Homo sapiens: one gene and its partner. Changing the gene in region 1 together with any one later gene gives a genetic interaction. Each region holds a gene or a part of one and is shown on either strand. Other genes may lie near its edges. The genes, in order: UBA1 and ACACA.

What was found.
Region 2: changes in UBA1 (region 1) and ACACA together harm fitness less than expected from each alone (positive genetic interaction), as found in Homo sapiens cells (one large-scale study listed by BioGRID).

The regions. Positions count from the first base shown.
Region 1 is NC_000023.11:47,200,329-47,204,140, forward strand, and holds part of UBA1 (ubiquitin-like modifier-activating enzyme 1), read left to right. Parts: intron 1-565; coding exon 566-672; intron 673-947; coding exon 948-1,038; intron 1,039-1,149; coding exon 1,150-1,282; intron 1,283-1,827; coding exon 1,828-1,925; intron 1,926-2,029; coding exon 2,030-2,176; intron 2,177-2,309; coding exon 2,310-2,486; intron 2,487-2,614; coding exon 2,615-2,719; intron 2,720-2,805; coding exon 2,806-2,886; intron 2,887-3,212; coding exon 3,213-3,368; intron 3,369-3,812. UniProt on the Homo sapiens protein: Catalyzes the first step in ubiquitin conjugation to mark cellular proteins for degradation through the ubiquitin-proteasome system.
Region 2 is NC_000017.11:37,242,567-37,246,378, reverse strand, and holds part of ACACA (acetyl-CoA carboxylase 1), read left to right. Parts: intron 1-1,164; coding exon 1,165-1,299; intron 1,300-1,403; exon of another isoform or gene 1,404-1,578; intron 1,579-1,644; coding exon 1,645-1,791; intron 1,792-2,819; coding exon 2,820-3,008; intron 3,009-3,812. UniProt on the Homo sapiens protein: Cytosolic enzyme that catalyzes the carboxylation of acetyl-CoA to malonyl-CoA, the first and rate-limiting step of de novo fatty acid biosynthesis.

The DNA of each region.
Region 1 (3,812 bases):
TGGATGGGTGTTTGTTAATTAAAAAGTCCAGGCCGGAAAGAGGTGCTCTGGAAGCTGAGAGTTGTCCCTGGAGTATCCCAGGTTGCCAGGGCACTGCAGCTAAATCCTGATGGAGGAGTAGGAGCTCACCCTGGTGGGGAAGGATGGACATTCAGGCAGAGAGCAAAATCCCAAAGATCATGGCGGAGCAGGCGTCGTCTTGAGAATTGGAAGCAGGTGGGTGTGGTAGGAGTGAGCTCAGACTTTGGCTGGAGACAGAGTTTTACTCCAGTGTCTCACAGGGCATGGCAGACAGACAGCAGCGGGTGTTTGTCAAATAAATGAGTCAGCTCTTCTCCAAACTCCCTCCTCCCAGCTACCTCTTCACCTTTCCTGGTATAGTCCAGGGGTTCATTTTCGACCCCCACAGAGTCTGATACACAGTAGGTGCTATGTGTTTGTGAAAGAGGCTGACCCAGCAAAGCCTGGATGTGTTTGCCTTGAGGACTGCCTGAGTCCTCCACACCAGCCCTCCATTTTTTCCCCTTCACCCCAATGCTGGGCCTGAGCCTCCATCTCTCCACAGGTGGTGGTGCTCACCAACACCCCCCTGGAGGACCAGCTGCGAGTGGGTGAGTTCTGTCACAACCGTGGCATCAAGCTGGTGGTGGCAGACACGCGGGGCCTGTTTGGGTGAGTGGCAGCCCACCTCCCTCCCTGTCCCCTTTTCCCCCAACTCCTACCAAGCCCAGGCCAAGACTCTAGGCTCTCCCTGCCCTCATCCCTTCTCAGCTACCCAGGTTTTGGGTTCTGTGTTTTCATCTCTCCCCATGTGGCACAAGTACCATCTTACATCCCAGCAGTGATAGGCTGAGTTTGCTCAGCAAGTTTTCACTACATCTTGAGGGACCCGTGGGACCTGTATGTGCATGGGACACAGGCACCAGCCCTATTGCTTCCCTCTACAGGCAGCTCTTCTGTGACTTTGGAGAGGAAATGATCCTCACAGATTCCAATGGGGAGCAGCCACTCAGTGCTATGGTTTCTATGGTTACCAAGGTAAGGAGACCAGCCCTAGGGTTCCTGGCAGGCAGGTGGGCTGCAGTAGTCCTTCCTGTCTGCTCTTGGTACCCTGGGCCTGTTTCTGAGACTCACTCTTCCTTTAACCAGGACAACCCCGGTGTGGTTACCTGCCTGGATGAGGCCCGACACGGGTTTGAGAGCGGGGACTTTGTCTCCTTTTCAGAAGTACAGGGCATGGTTGAACTCAACGGAAATCAGCCCATGGAGATCAAAGTCCTGGGTGAGCTGCGACCATGGGGGAAGCAGAGGGGAACTAGAAGATATGTTCCTGGGTTCTGGCCGGGGAGTTGAAGGGAGAAGACATGGCCCTTGGTTCAGAGTTGGGAAGACACATCCTGGTGTTTGAGATGAACTACAGACAATCCTGTGGGGTCCAATAAGAGCTGGTGGGCATGGGGGAGAGGTACTGTGTTTGAGCTATTCCTGGGAGAATGTGTCCCTGGTATCTGAGCTGAGTGGGGAAAAAGTCTCTGGTGTTTGAACAGGGCAGATCAGCGGATCTACTTGTGTGTGAGCTGATTTGGATGGGAAGCAGAGAAGGTCTTCCCGTGTAGACTTGGAGCCAGGGACACAGGGTCTCACGGGGTCTGAGCTGAGTCTGGGGCACAGGAGAGATGGTTTCTGATGTCCAAGTGGAGCCTGGAGCTGAGGGAAGACAGCTTCTGATGTCTGAGCTGAGTCGGGGCAGGAGGTTCCTTATCTTGCAGGGGTTGTGGATTTTAGGGAGAATGGGTAGACTGACAGCTCTCTTCCTGCCCTCTGTAGGTCCTTATACCTTTAGCATCTGTGACACCTCCAACTTCTCCGACTACATCCGTGGAGGCATCGTCAGTCAGGTCAAAGTACCTAAGAAGATTAGCTTTGTGAGTGTGTCGATGGGATCAGTGGGCTGTGGGGGGTGGTTCTAGGCATTCCCTAGTTCTCCATTCCTCTCTTCTGGTTCTGATGACCTCTCCCCCCGCCACAGAAATCCTTGGTGGCCTCACTGGCAGAACCTGACTTTGTGGTGACGGACTTCGCCAAGTTTTCTCGCCCTGCCCAGCTGCACATTGGCTTCCAGGCCCTGCACCAGTTCTGTGCTCAGCATGGCCGGCCACCTCGGCCCCGCAATGAGGTGGGTGAGTGGGCGAGCCAGCCAGCGCAGACATGCCTGGCACTGCAGGCTCACCATGCCTCTCTGCGTGTCCACACTCCCTGCCCTCACTGTGGCCTGACATATCCTCTCTTGGTTCTTTCTGGCCCACCAGGAGGATGCAGCAGAACTGGTAGCCTTAGCACAGGCTGTGAATGCTCGAGCCCTGCCAGCAGTGCAGCAAAATAACCTGGACGAGGACCTCATCCGGAAGCTGGCATATGTGGCTGCTGGGGATCTGGCACCCATAAACGCCTTCATTGGGGGCCTGGCTGCCCAGGAAGTCATGAAGGTCAGCACGGGTGGGGAGAGGCAGGATTGGGGTGGGCCAGGTTCCTCCATGACTCTGTCACTTGCTCTCTGTCTGTGTCAGGCCCCTGTTAACCACTGACCACCCCCTCTCTCCCTTCCCCTCTCCAGGCCTGCTCCGGGAAGTTCATGCCCATCATGCAGTGGCTATACTTTGATGCCCTTGAGTGTCTCCCTGAGGACAAAGAGGTCCTCACAGAGGACAAGTGCCTCCAGGTATGTGGGTGGGACCTGTGGGGAGGGCATCATTGGGGACATTTCTGGGGAGGCCTCTCTAACCCTCCTCCCTTTGCATTCCTTAGCGCCAGAACCGTTATGACGGGCAAGTGGCTGTGTTTGGCTCAGACCTGCAAGAGAAGCTGGGCAAGCAGAAGTATTTCCTGGTAAGTGGTCCCCTTGGATGTCTGCTCCCCTCATCTTGGCCTCTGGCCATCACCCCTGGGGCTTCCTTCGGCATCTCAATGCAACCGGTGGCGCATTCTCTTTGCCATTCTCCTTATCTTGAAGGGAAGCCCAGTGCATCCCTCGTTTCCCCTTCTGGTGCCTCCTTCCTCACATGACTGCGTGTCATTTCTTAGAGTCCTGCAACCTGAAGATGTGGTGTTAGCCCCTCTCCCCGTCTCTCAGGGGAGTGAGGGGTGATGGGTAGCTTCACACTAACCTGCATCACCCTGACCAGCCTCTGCCTGTCTTCTTGGTTGCTTCTTAGGTGGGTGCGGGGGCCATTGGCTGTGAGCTGCTCAAGAACTTTGCCATGATTGGGCTGGGCTGCGGGGAGGGTGGAGAAATCATCGTTACAGACATGGACACCATTGAGAAGTCAAATCTGAATCGACAGTTTCTTTTCCGGCCCTGGGATGTCACGGTGAGTAGGGTAGGAGGTTGGGGCTTTGTCGTCTCACTTTCCTCCTTTTTCTTTTTTTTTTTTTTTTTGAGACGGAGTTTCGCTCTTGTTGCCCAGGCTGTAGTGCAGTGGCGTGATCTCTGGCCCACCACAACCTCTGCCTCCTGGGTTCAAGCGATTCTCCTGCCTCAGCCTCCTGAGTAGCTGGGACTACAGGCATGCGCCACCACGCCCGGCTGATTTTGCATTTTAAGTAGAGACAGGGTTTCTCCATGTTGGTCAGGCTGGTCTCGAATTCCCGACCTCAGGTGATCTGCCTGCTTCAGCCTCCCAAAGTGTTGGTATTACAGGCGTGAGCCACCACACCTCACCCCTCCTTTTTCTTGTTCCCATTCTTTCTGTCAGAGATCTTTCTGCCTCTGCCAGAAGCCCTTCTTTTTGGCCTTTCTTTCCCTCAGCTTCTGT
Region 2 (3,812 bases), on another chromosome or scaffold:
TTGGCTTAATTAGAAGTGCGAACCTTAAGATTTTTAAAACACATAGGCAAATGAGGAATCTCTAGTTCTAAAAATAGATACTAGGCAATAGCACTTGTTGAATGTTAGGTGTCCTAACTGCTGGCTATCCAGAGAAAATACATGGAGGTGGGGCACAAAACAGACAAGAAATGTCATGTGATTAATTTTAAGAGAGCTAAGCATAGAGTGCAGAGGGTCACCTAACCCAAATCAAGCTAAGCTTGTATGGGAAGATATTCTGAAAGAAGAGACATTTGATCTTAGTTTTGAAAGACAGATAGTGATAGAGCAGGTGAAGAAGGGCAGGGAAGAGTGCTTAAAGTTGAAGGAATAGCATGTACAAAGACAGAAGCAAGACAGCACAGTGTATTTAGGGAACTGCAAGTATGTGTTGGTGTGGCTTGAGAATAGACTAAGGTTTAATGGGGAGGGACAAGCAAAGGTGCTAAAGAAGTAATGTGAGATCTTGAATGTGAGGTTATGAAGGATCTTATAAACCATACTAGTAAGTTTTCACTATCCTGGAGGCAGCAGGTAATCTCTGAAAGATTTAAGTGGAAAAGTAGTATGATGAGATTTGGGGTCTAGGAAGATTGCTTTTCGTGACCTTGAGGGAGGTATGTAGCAAGTAGGGAGATCTCTTAGGGGGTCTTTGAAGTACTTTGGGCCAGAAATGAAGAAGGCGTAAACCGAAGAGTTGGCAAGAGAGGAAGATTTTTGAGAAAGGTTTAGAAGATATGTCTGGCTGGGTTGGTAATTGGTAGGTAAGGGAGAAAGAGGAGTGAAGAATGATCCTTAGGTTTTGGCCTGGTTGTCTTAGATTGGATTCACTGGTATGAGGATATTAAATTGTTCCTTACTTTCTAAGTACAAAACAAATATAATCACAAATTATGCCAAAATGGTTGTAAAAGTTAGAAAGGAGAAATGTCAATAACTGTTATTAATTCCTAAAGTGAGGTACTGAGAGATTTTCTAATTGCTTGCCTTGATAGTCCCTAGGAGATGATGGTAAATTCCCATTTTTTCTTGGTCAAATTAGGTGTGGTCCAACTTAGATGCTAAGGGAAAAATTTTAGTTCTTTTAAGCACTCATCTGTGTAAAGAGAGATAAATCTGAGTCTAGTTTATTTTTCACTATAGGTAATGAAGATGGTAATGACCTTAACAGCTGTGGAGTCTGGCTGTATCCATTACGTCAAGCGACCTGGAGCAGCTCTTGACCCTGGCTGTGTACTAGCCAAAATGCAACTGGACAACCCCAGCAAGGTTCAGCAGGTGAGTAGGAAGGTGCTCCGAATATTGCTCTCTAAGAGCTAAAGAACTTGGTGGTTTGGAGAGGCAAGTGATTTCAATGCTTGGTTTGCCAGTGTTTTCTTTAGCTTTGTCCCCTATTAATCTTATGCCTTGTATTTGTGCCTGTAGTATTATGGAACTAGAGTTTGCAAGAGTTACTGTAGTACTAAGATTCTGTAATTTCCTTATGATGTTTCCTCTATTGACTTCCCTCCTGGTAGCTGGGTATGATGTCTCGATTTTGAATGATAACTCTTAAGTGCAGTGGTGTGTTTGTACCTTAGATCAAAAGTAGTAGATGACTTGATCTCTTGTTGGGGTTGACAGGCTGAACTTCACACAGGTAGTCTGCCACGGATCCAGAGCACGGCACTCAGAGGCGAGAAACTCCATCGAGTGTTCCATTATGTCCTGGATAATCTGGTCAATGTAATGAATGGATACTGCCTTCCAGATCCTTTCTTTAGCAGCAAGGTATGTATCACGTCTCCTGGGGAAGGGATGTACAAATGGGATACCTATTCTCCAAAATAGTTCCAAGTCTCATAATGATTGTTTAAGAGGGAGGAAAAGAAAGCTGTTTGGCCTAGAACTCTTTCACCTTCAGTTGTGGGACTTGAGGTCTTTAAATCCATGTTTCTTATCCTTGTCATGGACTTCACATTTAATTGTGATTACTCCTTTTTTTTTTTCCTCGAGACGGAGTCTTGCTCTGTTGCCCAGGCTGGAGTGCAATGGCACAAACTCAGCTGACTGCAACCTCCACCTCCTGGGTTCAAGTGATTCTCCTGCCTCAACCTCCTGAGTAGTGGGGATTGTAGGCACGTGCCACCAGGCGCGGCTAATTTTTTTTTTTTTTTTTTAGTAGAGGTGGGGTTTCACCACGTTGGCCAGACTGGTCTTGAACTCCTGACTTTGTGATCTGCCCGCCTCGGCCTCCCAAAGTGCTGGGATTATAGGCGTGAGCCACTGTGCCCGCCCGTGATTAGTCCTTTTTAAACTGGAGAATAGGGGCAATGTTAGATGCTTACGTTGCAATTTCAAAGTACTCTATGATAGTTGGCTCACGCCTGTAATCTCACCACTTTGGGAAGCTGAGATGGAAAGATCGCTTGAGGCCAGGAGTTTGAGACCAGCCTGATCAACATAGCAAGACCCCATATCTATTGAAAATTATATAAATTTTTATTGAAAAGAAGTAGTATATGATAGTGAATTCAGATATAGTTGACTCTTGAACAATACAGGTTTGAACTGTGTGGGTCCACTTATATGTGGATTTTTTCAGCCAAACATGGATCAAAATTACAGTATTGATGAGATATGGAACCCACAACTATTTCTATACATGGGTTCCGTAGGGCTCAAGTATGTGCAGATTTTCATATATGAGTGGTGGTTCTGGAACCAATTTCCCACGTATACAGAATGACAACTATATATCTTTTTATTTGGGGGATTGTGTTAACTTGGGTCCTATTTTACCAATGCTTTCTTTCTAGGTAAAAGACTGGGTAGAGCGATTGATGAAAACCCTCAGAGATCCCTCCCTGCCTCTCCTAGAATTGCAAGATATTATGACCAGTGTGTCTGGCCGCATTCCCCCCAATGTGGAGAAGTCTATCAAGAAGGAAATGGCTCAGTATGCTAGCAACATCACATCAGTCCTCTGTCAGTTTCCCAGCCAGCAGGTATTTATAGGATAACACTATATTTTTTTCTGGCTACCAATGCCAGAGTTTATGTTGTAGGATTCCTTCCTATTTGGATCCTCCTTACTTTTTGGATGTTGTGCTTGTATACTTTTAAGCATTGTATTCCTCACAAAACTGCCTCAGGGTACAAACCCAACAGTGAAAGTACTGTATGTGAAGGATAAGTATCTGTAGTTATGAGAAAAGCACACTTGGATCATGTATACCTTATAGCTTTGTTCCTGGGGCTATTCCCTAATTAGAGGTATTTTCATGAATTGAAAATAGAGTGATATTAGTTGATTGATTGATTCATTCATTCACTCATTGATTTAGAGATGGAGTCTAGCTCTGTCACCAGGCTGGAGTGCAGTGGCTGATCTCGGCTCACTGCAACCCCTGCCTCCCGAGTTCAAGCAATTCTCCTGCCTCAGCCTCCTGAGTAGCTGGGATTACATTCACACGCTGCCATGCCAGCTAATTTTTGCATTTTTAGTAGTCACGGGTTTCACCATGTTGGCCAGGATGGTCTCGATCTCCTGACCTCGTGATCCGCCCACCTCGGCCTCCCAAAGTGCTGGGATTACAGGCGTGAGCCACCGTGCCCAGCTGTTTATTTATTTATTTATTTATTTTTGAGACAGGGTCTTGCTCTGTCGCCAAGGCTGGAGTGCAGTGGTGCGGTCATGGCTCGCTGTAGCCTTGACCCCATAGGCCCAATGGCTCATCCCACCTCAGTCTCCCAGGTAGCTGGGACTACAGATGTGCACCACTATGCCCAGCTAATTTTTAAAAAATTTT